Linked DNA regions of Homo sapiens: all the other regions are linked to region 1. Evidence: fine-mapped expression QTL. A gene starts in region 1. Each other region holds a variant in brackets. All regions are shown on one strand. Distances are between the middles of the regions.

Region 1 (4,348 bases):
CATCCTGCTCAAGTAGTGAAGAGACAAAGCAGCCTTCCTAGATTGATGCAGAGCTCCAAGGAAAGCAAAGCTGTTCTTGTTGAGATCATTCTGAGAGCGAGAAAGGTGGTTAAATACATTTCAAAGGGCTTCCTGCGGGCTGTATGTGCAGAGATGATTTGAGTGGGGAATGTAGTTAGCTTCCGTTGATGTTAGAACTGGAAGGACCCTCTGCAGTCATCTGCTTGTTTAACTTCCTCCTTGCCCCTGATTTATCAAACTCTGGTGAGGAAAACTGACTTGCCTAAAATCATACATCAAGGTAAGGTAAAATTGAGGAGATCTATTGGGCCGGGTGTGGTGGCTCACACCTGCAGTCCCAGCACTTTGGGAGGCTGAAGCGGGTGGATCACCTGAGGTCAGGAGTTCAAGACCAGCCTGGTCAACATGGTGAAATCCCGTCTCTACTAAAAATACAAAAATTAGCCGGGCGTGGTGGCGGGCGCCTGTAATCCCAGCTACTCGGGAGGCCGAGGCGGGAGAATTGCTTGAAACCTGGGAGGCAGAAGTTGTAGTGAGCCAAGAGCATGCCACTGCATTCCAGCCTGGGCAACACAGCAAGACTCTGTCAAGAAAGAAAGGAGGAAAGAAGAAAGGAAGGAAGGAAGGAAAAAGAAAAGAAATAAAGTTGCCAAGAGATTTTAAATGTTCTCATCACAAATAAATATGTGAAGTAATGCATATGTTAATTAGCTTGATTTACCCATTCTGCAATGTACATATATTTCTTTTCTTTTTTCTTTTTTTTTGAGACGGAGTCTCGCTGTGTCGTCCAGGCTGGAGTGCAGAGGTGTGATCTTGGCTCACTGCAACCTCCGCCTCCCCGGTTCAAGCGATTCTCCTGCCTCAGCCTCCTGAGTAGCTGGGATCATAGGCATGCGCCACCACGCCTGGCTAATTTTTGTATTTTTAGTAGAGACAGGGTTTCACCATGTTGAGCAGGCTGGTCTCCAACTCCTGACCTCGTCATCTGCCCGCCTCGGCTTCCCAAAGTGCTGGGATTACAGGCGTGAGCCACCGCGCCCGGCCCAATGTACATATATTTCAAAACATCATGTTGTACACCATAAATATATACAATTATTAATCATATATGACATATGTATGTGTATAAATAAACAAATATATATATTTGACAACTATAAAGGTAGAACTTGGACCAGAATCCAGGTTTCCTGACCCCCCCAGTCATAATTCCTTGTTAATGTTACCAATTACGAATAATTTTTTTTTTTGAGACGAAGTTTCGCTGTTGTTGCCCAGGCTGGAGCGCAATGGCGCGATCTCGGCTCACTGCAATTTCCGGCTCCCGGGTTCAAGCGATTCTCCTGCCTCGGCCTCCCGAGTAGCTGGGATTACAGGCCCCCGCCACCACGCCCGGCTAATTTTTGTATATTTAGTAGAGACGGGGTTTCACCATGTTGACCAGGCTGGTCTTGAACTTCTGTCCTCAGGTGATTCATCCTCGGCCTTCCAAAGTGCTTGGATTACAGGCGTGAACCACCGCGCCCGGCCCCTTAAGAAGTCTTCACATTCCTCTTTTACTTAAGGAATTACTGGGCTTCGTTTCTGGAGCCTTGTGAGAAGCATTACACTGTCCCCCCTTTTTTTTTTCTTTTTTAAAATTAATTTTCCTGTAGGAAGCAAGATCCCATCTGTCCCTTCTTTAGGCAATGAAGCTTTTTTCACCTTTGCATAAAAGAACAGCTGAGCCCCCTTTTTAAATTTTCTTTTGTCTTACCGTCCCTTGAGGCTAGAAGAGGATTCTCAAGGCACAGAGTTGTGGGCCACAAGAATCCAGGTTGAGGAAACGGTGAAAGTCCTGAGCTGAAACAACTACCTTGGGGCATTCAAGGAACAGCAAACAGCAAACCGACCGGCGAGGGTGGCGGGAGCTGGGCTGGAAATCAGGTGGGAGAACCGGCCAGACGCCCGCAGGCGCGGTACGCAGATATCCTGGAATGCGCTGGGGGCTCTTCCCTGGGCGCGGCTTCAGCACCCCGCATTCCGGTCCCACCACGTCCCCACCCACCTGGAGAAGGCGGAGGCTGCACTGAGTGCCATAAGTAGTCGAGAAGGGATGATTTTCAAGACATACCCTCTCTTTGCTTTCCCCCCTTTCCAATTCTGCCTTGTCTTTTTCCTTGTTGTGGGTGCTGGTGAGGGAAAGCAGTCAAGGAAGTTGGTCCCAAGAGGGGAATGCTTTCCCTTGGGCGCCAAGAGGCACTGACGAGGTGTCAGAGCCTTCTGAGGGACAGATGAGACTTTGGCCCAAGGCCAGGAAGATGTTTTCAGATGTGGGCCGGAAGACTTGACAATGCGGGGTCTCCCTCTTTTAAAAATATCCATATAATCAAAGCCTTTGTTGACTGGCCCGCTCCGGCCCCTCAGTCCTCCACAGATGCGCCCCAGGGCCCCAGCCCCGAGGTCCTTTTCCTAATATCCGCTCTTGCTCTCGCTCACTCTCCTCAGGTCGCCTGCTCCGCCCGCTCCCGCTCCCGATCTCTGATTGCTCCTAACTGACGTCACTCCCGGTCTGTCCCCGCCCACTCGGTGCTGCCATTGGCAGTCGGTCGTGGGTACGCGGCTCCTGTGGGGGAGGGGGGAGCTATGGGAGGGGGCGGGAATTCCCGACTCTAGGCCGGAAGCGCGCGGAGACCATGTAGTGAGACCCTCGCGAGGTGAGTGCGGGCTGTCTGGCAGCGGGGTCCATGTCGGCTGCCCAGGCCTCCCCGGGCCCGGGAACAGGAGTCCCAGCTCACGCATTCTTCATCTGCTTCCCGCGACGCTTGGCGGCCTCGCACCCCGCCTCCTGGAGCCCGGACTTTCAGGCACCGCCCTCAGTGTCGCCTCAGTCCGTCCCGGGACCGCAGACTCTTAGGGCCCCTCTCTTTGGCCATCTGCCTCTAGGTCCCATCCTGGGGCCTGAAGCGCTTGTTCTCTGCGCTGGGAAAAGGGGAACGATGGAGCGATCCAGCACCCAAACTTACCCTGTCCAGGTGGCCCACGAAGCTACCCAAGACATCTCTGCACAGCCCTAGCCTTTTTGGCTTCACCCACTCCGTTCGGGAGTTGGGGACCCGGCCTCTACATTCCTTAGGGGAACTCCAGCTCCAGGTCCTATTTGGAGGCGGCTCCTAGTTTCCTAGTTTTCTGGGGGCACCAGGTGAAAGGGTGATGAGATATCCATACAGCCTTTCTCATGCCTCGGTTTCCCCCGTGCAGTCTCCCTGAATAAGTCACTTGGGAAAGAAAGTGTGAGAAGAGAGGAATGTTCCTGGTACAGGAGTAGATGAGTCACCCTGGGTAGGGGAAGGTCACAAAGTGGCTGGGGCCAGGGAGCTGCACTCTGCTGACCAAGCTTCCCCATTCCTTGCCCCATCTTCCTTTGCATGATTTTTCCCAACCACTCTGGTCTGTCTTCCTAGGTCTGAGAGTCACTGGAGCTACCAGAAGCATCATGGGGCCCTGGGGAGAGCCAGAGCTCCTGGTGTGGCGCCCCGAGGCGGTAGCTTCAGAGCCTCCAGTGCCTGTGGGGCTGGAGGTGAAGTTGGGGGCCCTGGTGCTGCTGCTGGTGCTCACCCTCCTCTGCAGCCTGGTGCCCATCTGTGTGCTGCGCCGGCCAGGAGCTAACCATGAAGGCTCAGGTAAGCCTCTCCTTTTCCCCACACTGCTATGAATGCTTGGCTTAGGGAGGGCTCTGGGGCTGGCGGGGAGTGACCAAAGGAGGAGGGAAAGGCAAGGGTAGCCATTGTTTGGGTTGGGGTGGTCGGCCCTGGAGGGGGTTTGTTTGCTTATTCCCCTCTGTGCTTCACCCCTACCCAGCTTCCCGCCAGAAAGCCCTGAGCCTAGTAAGCTGTTTCGCGGGGGGCGTCTTTTTGGCCACTTGTCTCCTGGACCTGCTGCCTGACTACCTGGCTGCCATAGATGAGGCCCTGGCAGCCTTGCACGTGACGGTGAGCACTGGCCTGGGCATGTGACTTGCGGGAGGGGAATCACACACCTCTGGGAGTGTTGGTTTGTGGAGATTGATTCATGTGCCACTCCATGACTGTGTGGAAGACTTTTGGCATGTGGTATGAATTGTGATTTTTGGTTATGGGGCATAATTCTTTCTATGTGTTCCCTCCCCCTTCCCCATTCCCTGTGTGACCCCTACATTCCCGTTGAGACAGTAAGACACTTTTTCTCAGGTGTGTGACTTGCTCTATGGGTTCTCAGTTCTAGCTACCAGCAAGTGCTCCAAGAATCATCTTCACTCTCTCACCACTTTCCTAAAGGGCTGGAGATAGAGGTCTCTGTAGGCCTG
Region 2 (4,348 bases), 380 kb after region 1:
ATTGCAGGCTGGGTGTGGTGGCTCATGCCTGTAATTCCAGCACTTTGGGAGGCCGAGGTAGGTGGATCCTTTGAGCTCAGGAGTTTGAGACCAGTGAGGGCAACGTGGTGAAACCCCACTAAAAAAAAAAAAATAAGATTGCAGTAGGTTTTTGCTTGTTGGTCAAGATGTTCCTTTCTATTCCTAGATTATTAAGCGTTATTATTATAAATGGGTATTGAATTTATTCTGGCATCATCATATGGTTTTAATTTTTAATCTCTTAATGTGGAGACTTACATTAATGTATTTTCTAATGTTAAAGTCATCCCTGCAATCATGACATAAACCCAACTTAGTCATAATTTTTCTTAAGTATAATACTTGATTCCATTTGCTAACAGTTTATTTAGGATTTTGCATCTATAATCATAAGTGAGATTGGGTCTCAATTTTCCTTTCTCATACGATACATTTCTGGTGTTGGTATGTAGGATGATCTGCTTGGTACATGGGTTTGGCTGTATGTAACGGATACCAAAAATAGTGGTGACGTGAATGAGAGGGAAGTTTTTTTTTTCTGTCCTGTATTATCTGGAGGTTGGTGGTCCAGGGCTGGTTTGGTGGTTCTGCTTAACCACCCCTAGTTCGTATGGTCCAAATAGCTCATGTACTTTCTAAGTGGCAGGGTGAAGAAACGGCATGTCTCTGACTTTTGAGCATGAATCAAAACTTGCATACCCCATTTCTACTTCTCTTGGCCAGAACTTAGTCATATGGCTACACTCAGCTGCAAGGAAGGCTGGGAAGTGTGGCCTTTATTTGAACTTAAAAGCAAAGATTCTTTTGCTGTGAAAGACAAGGGGAGAATAGGTAATAGGACAATTAGCAGTCTCTACCATAAAGGTTATTTTATATATGCCACATATGGGCAGTATTTCCTTTTTCTATTTTCTGGAAATTTAAGTTTGTATGATTTTTTTTTCTTTTTTTTTTTGGCTGACTTTTGTTTTTTTTTTTTTTAAATTTATTTATTTATTTATTTTTTAATTGATCATTCTTGGGTGTTTCTCGCAGAGGGGGATTTGGCAGGGCCATAGGACAATAGTGGAGGTAAGGTCAGCAGATAAACAAGTGAACAAAGGTCTCTGGTTTTCCTAGGCAGAGGACCCTGCGGCCTTCTGCAGTGTTTGTGTCCCTGGGTACTTAAGATTAGGGAGTGGTGTTGACTCTTAATGAGCATGCTGCCTTCAAGCATCTGTTTAACAAAGCACATCTTGCACCGCCCTTAATCCATTTAACCCTGAGTGGACACAGCACATGTTTCAGAGAGCACAGGGTTGGGGGTAAGGTCACAGATCAACAGGATCCCAAGGCAGAAGAATTTTTCTTAGTACAGAACAAAATGAAAAGTCTCCCATGTCTACTTTCTACACAGACACGGCAACCATCCGATTTCTCAATCTTTTCCCCACCTTTCCGCCCTTTCTATTCCACAAAACCGCCATTGTCATCATGGCCGGTTCTCAATGAGCTGTTGGGTAGACCTCCCAGACAGGGTGGTGGCCGGGCAGAGGGGCTCCTCACTTCCCAGTAGAGGCGGCCGGGCAGAGGCACCCCTCACCTCCCGGACGGGGCGGCTGGCCGGGCGGGGGGCTGACCCCCCCCACCTCCCTCCCGGACGGGGCAGCTGGCCGGGCAGAGGGGCTCCTCACTTCCCAGTAGGGGCGGTTGGGCAGAGGCGCCCCGCACCTCCCGGACGGGGCGGCTGGCCGGGCGGAGGGCTGACCCCCCCACCTCCCTCCCGGACGGGGGTGGCTGCCGGGTGGAGACGCTCCTCACTTCCCAGACGGGGTGGCTGACGGAGGGAGGGGCTCCTCACTTCTCAGACGGGGTGGCTGCCGGGCGGAGGGACTCCTCACTTCTCAGACGGGGCGGTTGCCAGGCAGAGGGTCTCCTCACTTCTCAGACGGGGTCGCGGCCGGGCAGAGGCGCTT[A/C]TCACATCCCAGACGGGGCGGCGGGGCAGAGGCGCTTCCCACATCTCAGACGATGGGCGGCCGGGCAGAGACGCTCCTCATTTCCTAGATGGGATGGCGGCCGGGCAGAGACGCTCCTCACTTTCCAGACTGGGCAGCCAGGCAGAGGGGCTCCTCACATCCCAGACGATGGGCAGCCAGGCAGAGACGCTCCTCACTTCCCAGACGGGGTGGCGGCCGGGCAGAGGCTGCAATCTCGGCTCTTTGGGAGGCCAAGGCAGGCGGCTGGGAGGTGGTTGTAGCGAGCCGAGATCACGCCACTGCATTCCAGCCTGGGCACCATTGAGCACTGAGTGAACGAGACTCCGTCTGCAATCCCGGCGCCTCGGGAGGCCGAGGCTGGCGGATCACTCGCGGTTAGGAGCTGGAGACCAGCCCGGCCAACACAGCGAAACCCCGTCTCCACCAAAAAAATACAAAAACCAGTCAGGCGTGGCGGCGCGCGCCTGCAATCGCAGGCACTCGGCAGGCTGAGGCAGGAGAATCAGGCAGGGAGGTTGCAGTGAGCCGAGATGGCAGCAGTACAGTCCAGCTTCGGCTTGGCATCAGAGGGAGACCGTGGAAAAGGATTTTTTTTCTTATTTGGTAAACTTGTCTATGAAAACCATCAATTTTATCTTTGTTAGGTAGATTTATACTGCTAATCAATTTCTTTAATGATTATAGGTCTTCAGATTTTCTCCTTCTTAGTCAATGTTGGTCAGCTTTACATATAAATAATTTACATATATATAAAATTTACATATATATAATTTTTTTTCCTGCAAAGCTGCCTATTTCATCTAATTTAAAAAATGTCAACCTCAGCTTTAGCTGGGGGAATCCTGGTTAATCTGGTTTAAGAGTATAAGTCTTCAAAGTAATTTTGTTTTGCTTTTCCCAAGTGCCCCAAGGCCAAAACCAGTTTAGTATTACTTTTTATGTTGACTTCTTGGCTTTGGGGTTTTCTGAACCATTCCAGCCATGTAAACTAAAATCCCAAATCTGCATGAAGACAGGCCCAAGGTTAAAATTTCTCTAAGAAAACTTTCTCCATCCAGAGCCCAGGCGAAGACGTACAAGCTTCCTCGAAATCTCATTTTGCTCATGAGAGGTTTTTTCTTTCAGCCCATTCTTTCACCAAGAAAGTGGTACTTGGGGCACCTTGCTTCATGTAAGGTGGCTTTCGGATTCCCAGATACTTGCAGTTATAAGGACCCATCTCTTCACGATTGGTCCTTGAAAACTGAAGCCCCTTGTTTTCTGAGATTAGAAACCGTCCCTTCCCAAGAACAGCTGTAGCATTAACTCACGCCTAATTGGTTTTTAGTTTCCCCTTCGCTTTGGGCCTAGAAGGGTTTTCTTTACTTTAATGTGAACTTAGCTGTGAAATAAAAAAAGTATCACTGTCATGTTTTAACCAGATAGATTCTATTGCAGAAGCCCCTGTTGAAAATAAAAAAAAAAACCAAACAAACAAAAGAAAAAAAGAAAGAAAAGAAAAATAATCGATAGAAATGGAAGTCTAGCTATTTTTCCTTAACGCAATAACTTTATCAGAATATGTCCTGGCTTTGATAAGTCTGGATCATTTTCTTTTCTTAGAACATGATGTGCCTGGCTGGGAACAGTGGCTCACACCTGTAATCCCAGCACTTTGAGAGGCCAAGGTCAGTGGCGCACTTGAGCCTGGAGTTCGAGACCAGTCTGGGCAACATGAGGAAACCCTGTCTCTACAAAAAAATATTAGCTGGGCGTGGTGGCTTAATCCTGTAATCCCAGCACTTTGGGAGGCCGAGGCGGGCGGATTACCTGAGGTCAGGAGTTTGAGACCAGCCTGGCCAACGTGGTGAAACCCCATCTCTACTAAAAATAAAAAATTAGCTGGACGTGGTGGCTTGTGCCTATAATCCCAGCTACTTGGGAAGCTGAGGCAGGAGAATCGCTTGAACCCAGCAGGCGGAGGTTGCAGTGAGCCGATATGGCGCCACTGCACTCCAATTAGGGCAACAGAGTGAGACTCGGTCTTAAAAAAAATAAATAAATAAAATAAAAATTAGCCAGGCATGGTAGTGCACACCTGTAGTCCCAGCTACTTGGAGGCTGAGGTGAGAGGATCACCTGAGCCCAGGGAGGTCAATGCTGCAGTGAACCATGATTGTGCCACTGCACTCCAGCCTGCGCAACAGAGTGAGGCCATCTCAAAAAAAAAAAAAAAAAAAAAAAAAAAAAAAAAAAAAAAAGGTGGGTGTGTCCATTAGATCTGGAGTCAAGTATTTATTTTATTTTATTTATTTTATGTTTGAAAGTATTTATTTTAGATTATTTTATTCATTATCGTATGCTTTGTTCTC
Region 3 (4,000 bases), 86 kb after region 1:
AAGCAAAAAGCCAGATAATAGAGCAAGTAATATCTATTAACTACTCATTCGAGACTCCCCCTTCTTTTTTATTTCTTCTTTTCTGTTTAGTATGATATTATCAAAATGCGGTATTCTTTCCCTGCCATCTGCCAGAGTTAGAATTGTACAAAAGGACAGTCAAACAGCACATGGAAGGAAGGAAAAATTAGAGATTGTTCTAAGTGTCCATGCATTGCAAGTGTTACAATTTTGGGGTTCAGTTGTAGTGATTGTGTCTTTCATTGGCAATTAGGGGATCAGCATTCATTTAGAAATTATAATTCTGCTCAGTTTAGTATGATGTCTTTTTTTTTTTTTTTTTTTTTGTAGACAGTGTCTCGCTCTGTTGCCAGGCTGGAGTGCAGTGGCGCATTGTTGGCTCGCTGCAACCTCCGACTCCTGGGTTCAAGCGATTCTCCTGCCTCAGCCTCCTGAGTAGTTGGGACTACAGGCCTGCGCCACCATGCCCAGCTAATTTTTGTATTTTTAGTAGAGACGGGGTTTTTACCATGTTGGCCAGGATGGTCTCGATCTCTTGACCTCATAATCCGCCCGTCTTGACTTCCCATAGTTCTGGGATTACAGGCGTGAGCCACTGCACCCGGCCTGATGTCTTTTCTTAAATTCTCTTTATGTGCCTCCTAGGTGTGATATTTATGAAGCAGCTTTTGTGTTAGGTGAAAATGAGAAAGTATATTAAAGAATAAAGTATGGGGCCGAGAGCGGTGGCTCATGCCTGTAATCCCAGCACTTTGGGAGGCCGAGGTGGGTGGATCACATGAGGTCAGGAGTTTGAGATCAGCCTGGCCAACAAGGTGAAACCCTATCTCTACTAAAAATAAAAAAATTGGCCAGGTGTGGTGGCTCATGCCTGTAATCCCAGCACTTTGGGAGGCTGAGGCGGGCGGATCACGAGGTCAGGAGATAAGAGACGATCCTGGCTAAGACAGTGAAACCCTGTCTTTACTGAAAATACAAAAAATTAGCCGGGCGTGGTGGCTTGCGCCTGTAGTCCCAGCTACTCGGGAGGCTGAGGCAGGAGAATCGCTTGAACCCGGGAGGCGGAGGTTGCAGTGAGCCAAGATCGTACCACTGCACTTTCAGCCTGGGCGACAGAGCAAGACTGTCTCAAGAAAAAAAAAAATTAGCCAGGCATGGTGGTGGGCACCTGTAATCCCAACTACTCGGGAGCCTGAGGCAGAAGAATTTCTTGAACCTGGGAGGTGGAGGTTGCAGTGAGCCTAGATTGCACCACTGCACTCCAGCCTGGGCGACACAGCAATACTCTGTCTCAAAAAAAAAAAAAAAAAAAAAGGAATAAAGTATGGGTCACACTGTTACAGTTGGTTTTATGTGAGTTTATTTTTGCTTCTGACCATTCAGAATAACAGCACTGATGGGGAGAGTTGGGAATGAGAGGGAACTTTCAAACTCGTTAATCCTGTAGTAAGAGTTTTTATCAGGTTGCAGTCTAGAGGAAATTCCTTAATTTGATTGGGAACTTGTATATTTTTGTTAAAGCCTGTAAATTTCTCTTCTTGCCACATCTTTACAAGCAATAGTCTTTGAACGTCTGTATTTTTTGGTGTTAATATCTGTGCTTTTTTTCCTTTTGTTAGGAAGTGAATATGAGGTTATTACTTTCTTTAAGGATTGTAGGATGAGCTGGTCACAGTGGCTCACAGCCGTAATCCCAGCACCTTGGGAGACCATCGCAGAATTGCTTGAGCTCAGGAGTTTGAGACCAGCCTGGGCAACATAGGGAGATTCCATCTTTACAAAAAATTAGTCGTGGCATGTGCCTGTGGTCCTAGCTACTCGGGAGGCTGGGGTGGGAGGCTGCAGTGAGCCATGATTGCACCACTGCACTCTAGCCTGGAAAACAAAGTGAGACCCTGTCTCAAAAAAAAAAGAAAAAAAAAAAA[AG/G]ATTGCAGGATGGGACCTACCACAATGGTTGTTCTGCTTATTCCCCAGGCTGCCTGCAATTATTTCCCCACCCCAAGGAGCTGGAGCCTACTTTTCTAAGTCCCTTTATAAGTAAACTAAGGAGTATTATTTCCTAGTCTGTTGAGTACTGAAAGACAAAATAGCAACAGACCAAACTTGCTACAACCTAGAGGCTAGGTAAAGATTCATTCATTGTTGTTGTGGGATTACCTAGTTCTTAGAAGTAATAATTACCCTTTTTTTTTTTTTTTTTTAAGTTTTTTTGAGATGGAGTCTCACTCTGTTGCCCAGGCTGGAGTGCAGTGGCATGATCTCAGCTCACTGCAGCCTCTGCCTCCTGGATTCAAGTGATCCTCCCACCTCAGCCTCCCAGGTAGCTGGGATTATAAGCATGTGCCACCACACCCGGCTAATTTTCGTATTTTTAGTAGAGACGAGGTTTCACCATGTTGGTCAGGCTGGTCTGGAACTCTTGAGCTCAAGCAGTTGCCCCACCTCAGCCTCCCAAAGTGCTGGGATTACAGGCATGAGCCACCATGTCCAGCTATATCCTTTATTTTTACCTTTTCTCTTGATGTTAGGAGCCAGATTAGTGAGGATAATCTTAGTGATTATGTAGTCATAATCAGCAAGGCATAAACCAGTACCTTCTCTTAAAGGATAGATGAGAAATTTTTTTTTTTTTCTTAACTCTCATAGGCCTTAATTGCTGTTTTGGAGTGGCTGAAGAGTAATTTTGAAGTGTATGTGAAATCTGCCCTTTGGCCACGTCTGTCCCTTTAATTCTATTTATTTATTAGAGACAGGGTCTCACTCTGTTGCCCAGGCTGGAGTGCAGTAGTGTGATCATAGCACACTGCAGCCTTGAACTCCTGGGCTCAAGTGATCCTTTTGCCCCAGCCTCCCAAGTAGCTAGGACTGACTATAGGCATGTCACCATGCCTGGCTAATTTCATTATTATTATTTTTGGTAGAGACAGAGGCTCACTGTTTTTCCCAGGCTGGTCTCAAACTCCTGGCCTTAAGCAGTCCTTCTGCCTTAGCCCCCCAAAGTGCTGGGATTATAGGCATGGGCCAATGCAAAGAACCTTTCACTCTAATACTGCCTGTTCTTCTTTTCTTTTTTGAGGCGGAGTCTCGCCTTTCACCCAGGCTGGAGTGAAGTGGCACGATCTTGGCTCACTGTAACCTCCACCCGCCGCCCTCCCCTCACCAGGTTCGAGTGATTCTCCTGCCTCAGCCTCCCGAGTAGCTGAAATTACAGGCGCCTGCCACCATGCCCAGCTAATTTTTGTATTTTTAGTAGAGACGGGGTTTCACCATGTTGGCCAGGCTGGTCTCAAACTCCTGTCCTCAGGTGATCTGCCCGCCTTGGCCTCCCAAAGTATTGGGATTATAGGCATGAGCCACCGCCCTGACCTCTCATATCACCTTTTCTAAATGATTGTCTGGCACATTTGCTTTCGTGTATGTCAGAACTTCTGTGCTGATTTGTAAGGTGACAGTAGGAGAAAGCTGTTTACCTCCTGTTCATTACCTCTAGGCAGCACACTCTAACTTGTCACATTTAAGCATAGCGACCTTTACAATCCTTGGTGCATATTACTGAGCAGTATGTTACCCACTGCAAGGTCATCTAGGCTCTTTCTTTCAAGAATGTGAGCCAAAGGTTTGTGTAGTAAACTCAGTGATACAGAAAAGACACTGTAAGAGCATGTAAACAGTAATAGTCTTTCATAAGAATTACTCTCTTACCAGTCTGGTTGGATCGGAAACCAAAAATGACAATATAGATAGCATAGTACGATGGTTAAGGACATTGACTCAGGTAAGACAGTCCTGTGTTTTAACCACGCCCAGCCATTTAAGGACTGTGAAATCTTTTTTTTTTTTTTTTTTTTTTTTTTTTTTTTTGAGACGAAGTCTCACTGTGTTGCCCAGGCTGGAGTGTAGTGGCGCGATCTCAGCTCACTGCAGTCTCCGCCTCCCGGGTTCAAGCGATTCTCCTGCCTCAGCCTACTGAGTAGCTGGG

Direction of the effects. Alleles are on the strand shown, and positions count from the first base shown. SD is a standard deviation of normalised expression in the study named.
As copies of A replace C in region 2, the expression in monocytes of the gene that starts at base 2,678 in region 1 goes up (moderate effect, 0.61 SD a copy in BLUEPRINT).
As copies of G replace AG in region 3, the expression in monocytes of the gene that starts at base 2,678 in region 1 goes up (small effect, 0.33 SD a copy in Fairfax 2014).

Evidence for each region. PIP is the estimated chance that this variant, and not a neighbour inherited with it, causes the effect.
Region 2: its variant is the best candidate, but not a certain one, in a credible set for the expression of SLC39A1 in monocytes (BLUEPRINT, PIP 0.56).
Region 3: its variant is the best candidate, but not a certain one, in a credible set for the expression of SLC39A1 in monocytes (Fairfax 2014, PIP 0.87).

Annotation. Positions count from the first base shown.
Region 1 is chr1:153,961,867-153,966,214 of GRCh38, reverse strand. It overlaps SLC39A1 (solute carrier family 39 member 1), which reads left to right and starts at 2,678. Exons shown (of 4, transcript NM_001271958.2): 1 at 2,678-2,720; 2 at 3,468-3,686; 3 at 3,865-3,995. The coding sequence starts at 3,500. It overlaps MIR6737 (microRNA 6737), which reads left to right and starts at 3,795; the gene lies at 3,795-3,864. RefSeq lists enhancers at 2,302-2,581, 2,622-2,791, 2,942-3,001, 1,891-3,090, 3,042-3,111 and 1 more.
Region 2 is chr1:153,580,571-153,584,918 of GRCh38, reverse strand. No RefSeq gene overlaps it. Among named protein-coding and RNA genes, the nearest start is that of S100A2, 17 kb to the right of the region's middle. RefSeq lists an enhancer at 912-1,836. The variant A/C (reference allele first, on the strand shown) is at 1,977.
Region 3 is chr1:153,876,110-153,880,109 of GRCh38, reverse strand. All of the region lies in intron 1 of GATAD2B (GATA zinc finger domain containing 2B), which reads left to right. Among named protein-coding and RNA genes, the nearest start is that of GATAD2B, 45 kb to the left of the region's middle. The variant AG/G (reference allele first, on the strand shown) is at 1,947.